Linked DNA regions of Homo sapiens. The protein of the gene in region 1 purifies or fractionates together with the protein of each later gene. This does not show direct contact. Each region holds a gene or a part of one and is shown on either strand. Other genes may lie near its edges.

What was found.
Region 2: the proteins of STX16 (region 1) and VPS50 purify together in Homo sapiens (pull-down; one study listed by IntAct). This does not show direct contact.

The regions. Positions count from the first base shown.
Region 1 is NC_000020.11:58,668,166-58,671,994, reverse strand, and holds part of STX16 (syntaxin-16), read right to left. Parts: intron 2,705-3,829; coding exon 2,542-2,704; intron 1,484-2,541; coding exon 1,392-1,483; intron 842-1,391; coding exon 698-841; intron 1-697. UniProt on the Homo sapiens protein: SNARE involved in vesicular transport from the late endosomes to the trans-Golgi network.
Region 2 is NC_000007.14:93,291,104-93,294,932, forward strand, and holds part of VPS50 (syndetin), read left to right. Parts: intron 1-599; coding exon 600-732; intron 733-3,441; coding exon 3,442-3,533; intron 3,534-3,829.

The DNA.
Region 1 (3,829 bases):
TGAGGTCTTGTGTAGGGATTTTCCACCTGTGGCATCATGTTAACACTCAAAAAGTTTTGAATTCTGGAGCATTTTGAACTTCATATTTTCTGATTAGGATTGCTATGTATATATATCCTTTGAGTGTCATATTGGCACTCAAAAAAAAGTTTCAAATTTTGGAGCATTTTGGATTTCAGATTAGGAATGTTCAACCTGTATTATCATATATCATATTATTATTGCATTCCTCTCATTTAATCCCTAACAAGCATCCTATGAGGATGGTACTATGATTATTAGTCCCATTTTACAGATGAGAACACTAGAGTCAGAGGGATTAAATGAGAATCATGTAACTGTTAAACTGCTAAGAGCCAGGGTTCCAACATTCCAACCCCCCAGGGCTTTTCTCAAAGCACCACACTCCTCTGATAATTAGCACCCAGGAGACTTCAGTAAAAAATGTAAACACTGAGGTTTCAACACTAGTCCTATTATTTTAAAATTAATCAAATTTAATATTTGATTAATATTAATATACACACACACACACACACACACACACACACACACACCCACACACACATAAAGGACAGGTGCACACACATGTTGGGAAAATTGGCTCCAATTTTTTTCCCTGAAAGGAGTACAGGAAAAAGAAGGTACAGATAGTATGGCAGGAAAACCTATTCACGAGGAAGGCCAGCTCACGTACCTGTTCTACAATCATCGCCCCTAAGTCCCTGAATATTTCATTCAGGTCAGAAATGGACTGTACAATCTGGCGAATCTCTCGTTCCCGCTCTTCCACCATCAGTGTGTTCTGCTCCACCAGAACTAACTGGTCCTCTGTAAAACCCTAGCAAGACAGTGCACAATGTGTTGGATAGATTGTTTTCCCTCTCAGGAAAGCTATGGTATACTTGTTTAGATATAATTTAAAGACAATGAAAATAATTTAAAGAAAATGAATTCTGAAAATATTTCTACAAAGCACAGTAAGCACTCATTTTTCCCTAACAGGAAAGATTCAAATTCCCTAAACCAGCAGGATCTAAAGCTCTGAGGCCATAGCAGGGAAGACAGAAGCCCACGTCTGCCAACTCCACAAGGGCAGATAAACAAAACCCCCGGGATAGCCCTCTGTTTCTCTGGGCTCTTCCTAAGAAGGCAGGGTGTTGACCACTTTCCCAAAGGCTCTGGAAAGCAGATTACAAGGTCTCCCTGTGGCCTTTGGAAAGGAAGAAACAGTACGGCTGTTCTTCCACCTGCTGCAAAACAACCTGATGAATATACAAGTCAACTGTATCAATCCACTGACACTGCACAGAAGATCGAGGTCTAGGAGGTGAAAGATGCAGAATGGGGTGCACAGACACAGCAATCAGCTTTGCAGCCCGTTCACGTACCCGATGGTAAAGAGTGTTATCGTCTCCATCATCCATTAGTGGTACTGATGTGTCGAAAAAATGCTGGGATCTTTCCTCTCGATTCTTCATGCCTATCACAGATAGGAATTCATTTTACTTGAATATGTAAACCATCCTGAGTATTGTTCTACCATTAAAAGGGGGAATTCTAGAGTAAACTCCAACAGTCAAAATTGAGATATTCTTAGCCGCTTTAAAGAAGCCTATCTCCAATGGGGGTGGAGGGAGAGTAAAGGATTACAAACATACAACAATATGCAGGCATTTGGGATTACTCAAGACAAAAGTCACAGTGTAAATGTGCACAATTCACTTGATGCCAAGATAAAAATGACACAACCATCTGAGAATCTCTAAGTGAAGCAGAAATATTTAATCTAACTGCTGTTACAAAACATTTTAAAAAATCAGTATTTCTCTCTAGAAGCATCTCTAGTATGAATTCCATATGGCCCTAATCAAATTTTGGAAATAATAAAATTAAAATACAAATATGCCAGTTGTCAGAGGGAGGGAGAACTAGGTTTTTTGGAGTATGTGGGGACTTTATTGATTGCAAGGGCAATTTTAAAAAACCCAGTTTACAGGGTGATTAGAATGAGAAGAGAGCTGAAATCTGGCTTTGCACTATTTGGGAAGAAAAGGTCTGCTGGGTGAAACCTGTGGTGCCAGCAGAGGAAGTGTTTCAAGGACCCTGGGGAGGTTTTCTCAGGTGCTCTCAAACACTTTGGTTGTTATGCAAATATGTGGCTTTCAGTAATAACAACTGCTTTTTACCTATTGAAGAGCAGCTCTCCCAAACCCCAACATCCAGAAAACAACAGGTTTTTAAAATGTGCTTGGTTGATTTTCAAATTCTTGCAGCTTGACACAAAACAAATTTTGTTTGCTGAGATGCTGAACTATCTTGGTGCCCTCCCCCAGCCTTGGTCGGTACCCCACGCTGTGCCTTCATTCCAAGCCAGGGTTTCACATGGGGAGGAGGCTTCCCTTTACTGTACAAGGTATGAGCATGTTCAAAAGCTAACAATGAAAGGTACTGGACTAAATGAAAAAATAGTGGCAAAAAAGAAAACATAAAGTGCTTTTCTTACTCAAAATCCCTTCACTAGGCCCGGGCAGCACTCACGTTTGAGGTAGCCTGACTGTGCGTGCCGGAAGCTGGTGGAGAGTTCCTGCAGGGCCTGCGCCAGCGAGGCCACCACGTTCCCAAGCAGCCGCCCCTCCTGCTCGGAGCAGGCCCGGGCCCGGCTCGGCAGGGCCTGCACGGCACGCTGGCACCTGTGGAAGAGCTAAGAGAACAAGCCCGAGGCTCAGGGCAAGCCTGGGAGAGAAGCCCCTCTGCTAACACTGCCACATCACAAGCCAGAGTGAGAAGTGAGAGGCTCTGTTCACTCAGTCTGGTTTAGAGAAAGGTGAACAGATAAAAGGAATCTGTGGCTTCATTTATATACACAGAAAGATTTCACTAGATTTCAGCTCCTGCTATGTAGGGCCTGCTGTGTGCCCAGCTGCTCACATATCATCACGTTAGACAGGCTGAGTATCCCTCATCCGAAATGCTTGGGATTGGCAATGTTTAGGATTTCAAATTTCGGGAGATTTTGGAATATTTGCAGAATACCTACTAGTTGAGTACCCCAATCTGAAAATTCGAAATCCAAAATGCTCCAATGAGCATTCCTTTGAGTGTCATATTGGCACTCAAAAGAAAGTTTCAAATTTTGGAGCATTTTGGATTTCAGATTAGGAATGTTCAACCTGTATTATCATATATCATATTATTATTGCATTCCTCTCATTTAATCCCTAACAAGCATCCTATGAGGATGGTACTATGATTATTAGTCCCATTTTACAGATGAGAACACTAGAGTCAGAGGGATTAAATGAGAATCGTGTAACTGTTAAACTGCTAAGAGCCAGGGTTCCAACATTCCAACCCCCCAGGGCTTTTCTCAAAGCACCACACTCCTCTGATAATTAGCACCCAGGAGACTTCAGTAAAAAATGTAAACACTGAGGTTTCAACACTAGTCCTATTATTTTAAAATTAATCAAATTTAATATTTATAAAAAATTTTTTCTAGGATACTAAGTTGTTTTTTCAATTATGAGGACTATAATTTAGCATTGAAATTTCTTAACACTAGTATACGATATTAGTTATACATTTTAAAATCAAATGATTGAACTCGATAATGTTTGAAATTTCATATTTACTTAATCCGTCCACAGCAGTTATCTGCCAACAATTGAAAAACAGTCCCCATACCTCCAAGGCCTCACAGGTACCTACGCTGACAGCTGGAGGACTTCAGGGCCTCTTGAGGTCCCTCTGAGAACTTCAGGTTGGGAAATGACTCCAGGAGACTGATTCTGAGTAACACTCTAGTTTCTGAGATTGCCATGAGAAG
Region 2 (3,829 bases), on another chromosome or scaffold:
TACAAAGGGAAGCAAAATTCATGCACTTCCATTAAGGAGAGTATTTGAGTTCATATATTGTTTCATAGCCTTGTTTATGTTAGAAGTTATTTTAAAATGTTATTGTCAGATATAGAATATCTATTCCATACGATTTTAAAAATTTAGAGATTGTCAAAGATGTTTACTTAATTTACACAAATGAAATGACAGAATTGTAAATCCAACCTTCTTTTTGCAAGAAGGCCTGAGGTCCAGGCTATGTAAAGCTGTATTTGCATGTTTAGGATCATGTCTTTCAAAAAATGCATTTGGGGATGTTTACACTGCTATTTATGGGACCAGTTGCTAATTCAGTAATTTCTTTATGGTTCTGTAACTACAGATTGATTCACAGCATATGGGCTGATATTCTTAATGTGTACGAAAAAGCCATGTTGAGATGGGAATTATTTAAAAATTTTTTTTCTCCCCATTGAATTTTCTCTTTAGATATGTCAGTTGAAGAAATTTTCTTGGTTATTTCTAATTTTTGAATATATTTGATTAATAACCTATTTTATTATAACTGTTAGAGTAAACATAATAATTTGAAAGTTGTCTCTTATCATTTTCTTTAGCATGTTACACCAGACAGCTATATTCCATGCCTTGCAGACCTGTGCAAAGCACTATGGGAAGTTATGCTCAGCTATTATAGGACTATGGAATGGCATGAAAAGCATGACAATGAGGATACTGCTTCAGCTTCTGGTAGGAAAATATTTTTATTTTATTTTAAAAATTGAACTATAAATATCCCACATTACTGGAGTAAGAAGAAAGGAAAGGGGCAGGAATGCCTTTGGGATTTCAAAGATTACAGTGACCATAGGCTAAATATTGAGCAAAGAAAGTGATTCAGCTACTTCAAATGTTCTATTACCTTTAGAGAGTAACTGGGCCAAAGGACTTTTTAAGTGGCACATAGTACTAGTTTCCAGAAGTGTGTGCTGATGGCTTTAGGACTGAATTTATAAATTTTTGTTGTTGTTAATATTATTAGTTGCAAACTAGATAAGACATTGGTCTGTCTAAGTTTACTGTGAAATTAATGCTAGATGGTCAATATTAATCTATTTAGCCAATTTTCAAGTTACAGTAATAAAGCTAGGTTCTAAGAATTAATTATATTGATACTTTCCTTCCTGAAAATGAAGCAAGACTAGAATTTCATTTTCAAAATGATGTTTTAAAATATTCATCTTTGAATGGAAAATATAACTTTAAATGACTGTGGTACAGTCAGCTAAATAATAAAGAATACGTCTTTGAAAAATTATTGTATTTATTAATCATTCTATTTAAATTGCTTCATTTGTATAATTATATATCTTAACTGATTATCCTTGAACAGTAGCTGAGATTGAATATTCAGAATACTTATAAAAACAGTAAATGATTTTATCAGCATTTTGTTTAATATGGATAAAATAAATTATACTGCACATCTTTTTTTTTGTATTATATACAATTTATTGTAGCTATTCAATCAAGTTACTTTAATAAACTTCCAGTTTCTGAGGGGCTTATTTTCTGTTGTTGGGTGAGTGGACAACACACCCAAATCTCACTGTTTGATTAAATGTTTTGGTAGTTTAGAAGGCATAGGTTTAATCTTTGTCTTGACTTACAAGAAGCTTGTAAATATAGAAAACAAAATAAGAGGAAAATTCCATGAATGGATTTTTATCCATTTGGAAATATTGTTGGGGAGAGTAAAGGAAGGGAGAGAAAGGCAGAGAGAAGGTTGGGCACACAGCCAGGATTCCAGGTCAGACTACTTTTACCCAAAACTTATACTTTTACCCTGTACTACCCCTGGGACCATGAGCTCTGCGATCTGAGAGGCCTGGCTTCAAGTTTTCACTTCTATTTACCAAAGGTGAGAACTTGAAGACACTGCTTATTTTTCCCATTCTTCAGTTTGCTCCTAAAATTGGTCAGTTAAAAAGCAAAGCAAAACCAAACCAAACCCTTAGAGTAGTAACGCATCTACCCTGCAGGGTTGTTGTAAAGTTTGGACAGCATGTAAGGTACTTATATTGGTGGTGGTTAATATGATGAAATGAAATGGATCAAGAGATAATATAATAATAGTGAAATACCTGGAGACTGTTAAGACATATTTGCTTTTCTAGTACATTATTTAAGGAGAAACCAAAGAAAACGTTTGGAATAGAATTAACACATATTTTAGATATCAGAATTTAGGTGACAGTTATGTATATATTCATCATGGTAAAGCTTGCTTTTTGCTTTAGGCCAATAGTTTACATTCGTTGGAATACTGAGTCAAAGTGAAAACTCTATCTGATCCTTATTACTCAACCCTCTTTGCCTAATCTGTATATTTTATGGATATTCAAGTGCTCAAGCTGTCAGCTGATAGTATCTAGGACTATAAAAAGTTACTTGTTCACCTGAAATTAATCCTTTTATATTCAGGAATAAAATTGTAGAAATTAGTAAATTGAAAATTACTTTTCATGGAACTTCATAAAACTGAAGAGGACTCTAGACTTTATCTGCTGTATCTCTTTAGTGATAATATTTGATACTGTTTGGTAACCTAATACTTTAACGTTCTAAGGTAAAGCTCTAAAGCTATAGTTCAGGTGCACTGCCTTAGGCTGCTGGATCCCTAACAGCCATACCATGGGTGTAATAATAAGGCTTACGTTTTAGGAGTGCTCAGAGGCAAACTTGTCATGCATCTGTGTATCTGAGGCCTGGCATTTCCAAGGACCTTTTACTGGTTATCAGTGGATAACTTCCCAACCTAAGACAAGATGATAACATACTCACTTAGTTGTTCTTCACAGGATATTCACACAAAAGTTTCATCTTTTTAATATAAATGTGTATGTGTCTTTTTCAGTTGTCTTTAGGGCGGAGATTGGAGGCAGATCACTGATCTTATCTATTAAACTAGACATTGTTAAATTATTTATCTGGAGTGGATAAAACTATTATTTATCATGAAAAATATAAAATATATGCATTATCACCTCACGCCTGAGTTTTAATGTAGACTATCCTCTTAGCACGCATATTAATTGATAATTCAGTTAATTGGTCCTGTAATGCCCTTCTCACAGCCTTTTACATGGTCTTGCAGTAGGCAGTATTGAGAACCTGGTCTCTGGGACCACACTGACTCAGGTAGAATCCCAACTCAGTCACATATGATCTCAGTGGTCTTAGGTATATTTAGCATTTCATAGTCTACGTTTATTTGTCTCACCAAATGGGTTTAAGTCTAATACCTATTGTTTGATATTGTTTTGATTGTATAAATATCAAACATATTTACTGTATCTTACATAGACTTACAATGTGTGAGAGGCCAAATAGAAATTATTTGGAAAACAAACACAAATTGGATTAAATCTAAAAATATATATTGTCTTTTATTTTCAGAAGGGAGTAATATGATAGGTACTGAAGAAACTAATTTTGATCGTGGCTACATAAAAAAGAAATTAGAACATGGACTTACACGAATATGGCAGGTTTGGTTTTTTTAAAATTATTTTTTTCACAGAAGCAATAGAAATGTCATGTCATAGTTTTAGAAATTCAGTTTTAAGTTTTCTATATATGTATTCTTTGCAGATTTAATCATATGTTTCTGTTTGGAATTAGGCTATCATTTAATTTCTGTAATGTATTTGGACTATAAGTGGCAGGAAAAAAGTTTTTTAATTTGAAAATCTCCACTGGAAATATTCATACATGTCTTGAGTACATCTTTTGTTTTAGAGGCCTAGCAAATTTCCACTATCATAGAGAAATGTATGCTTTCTCA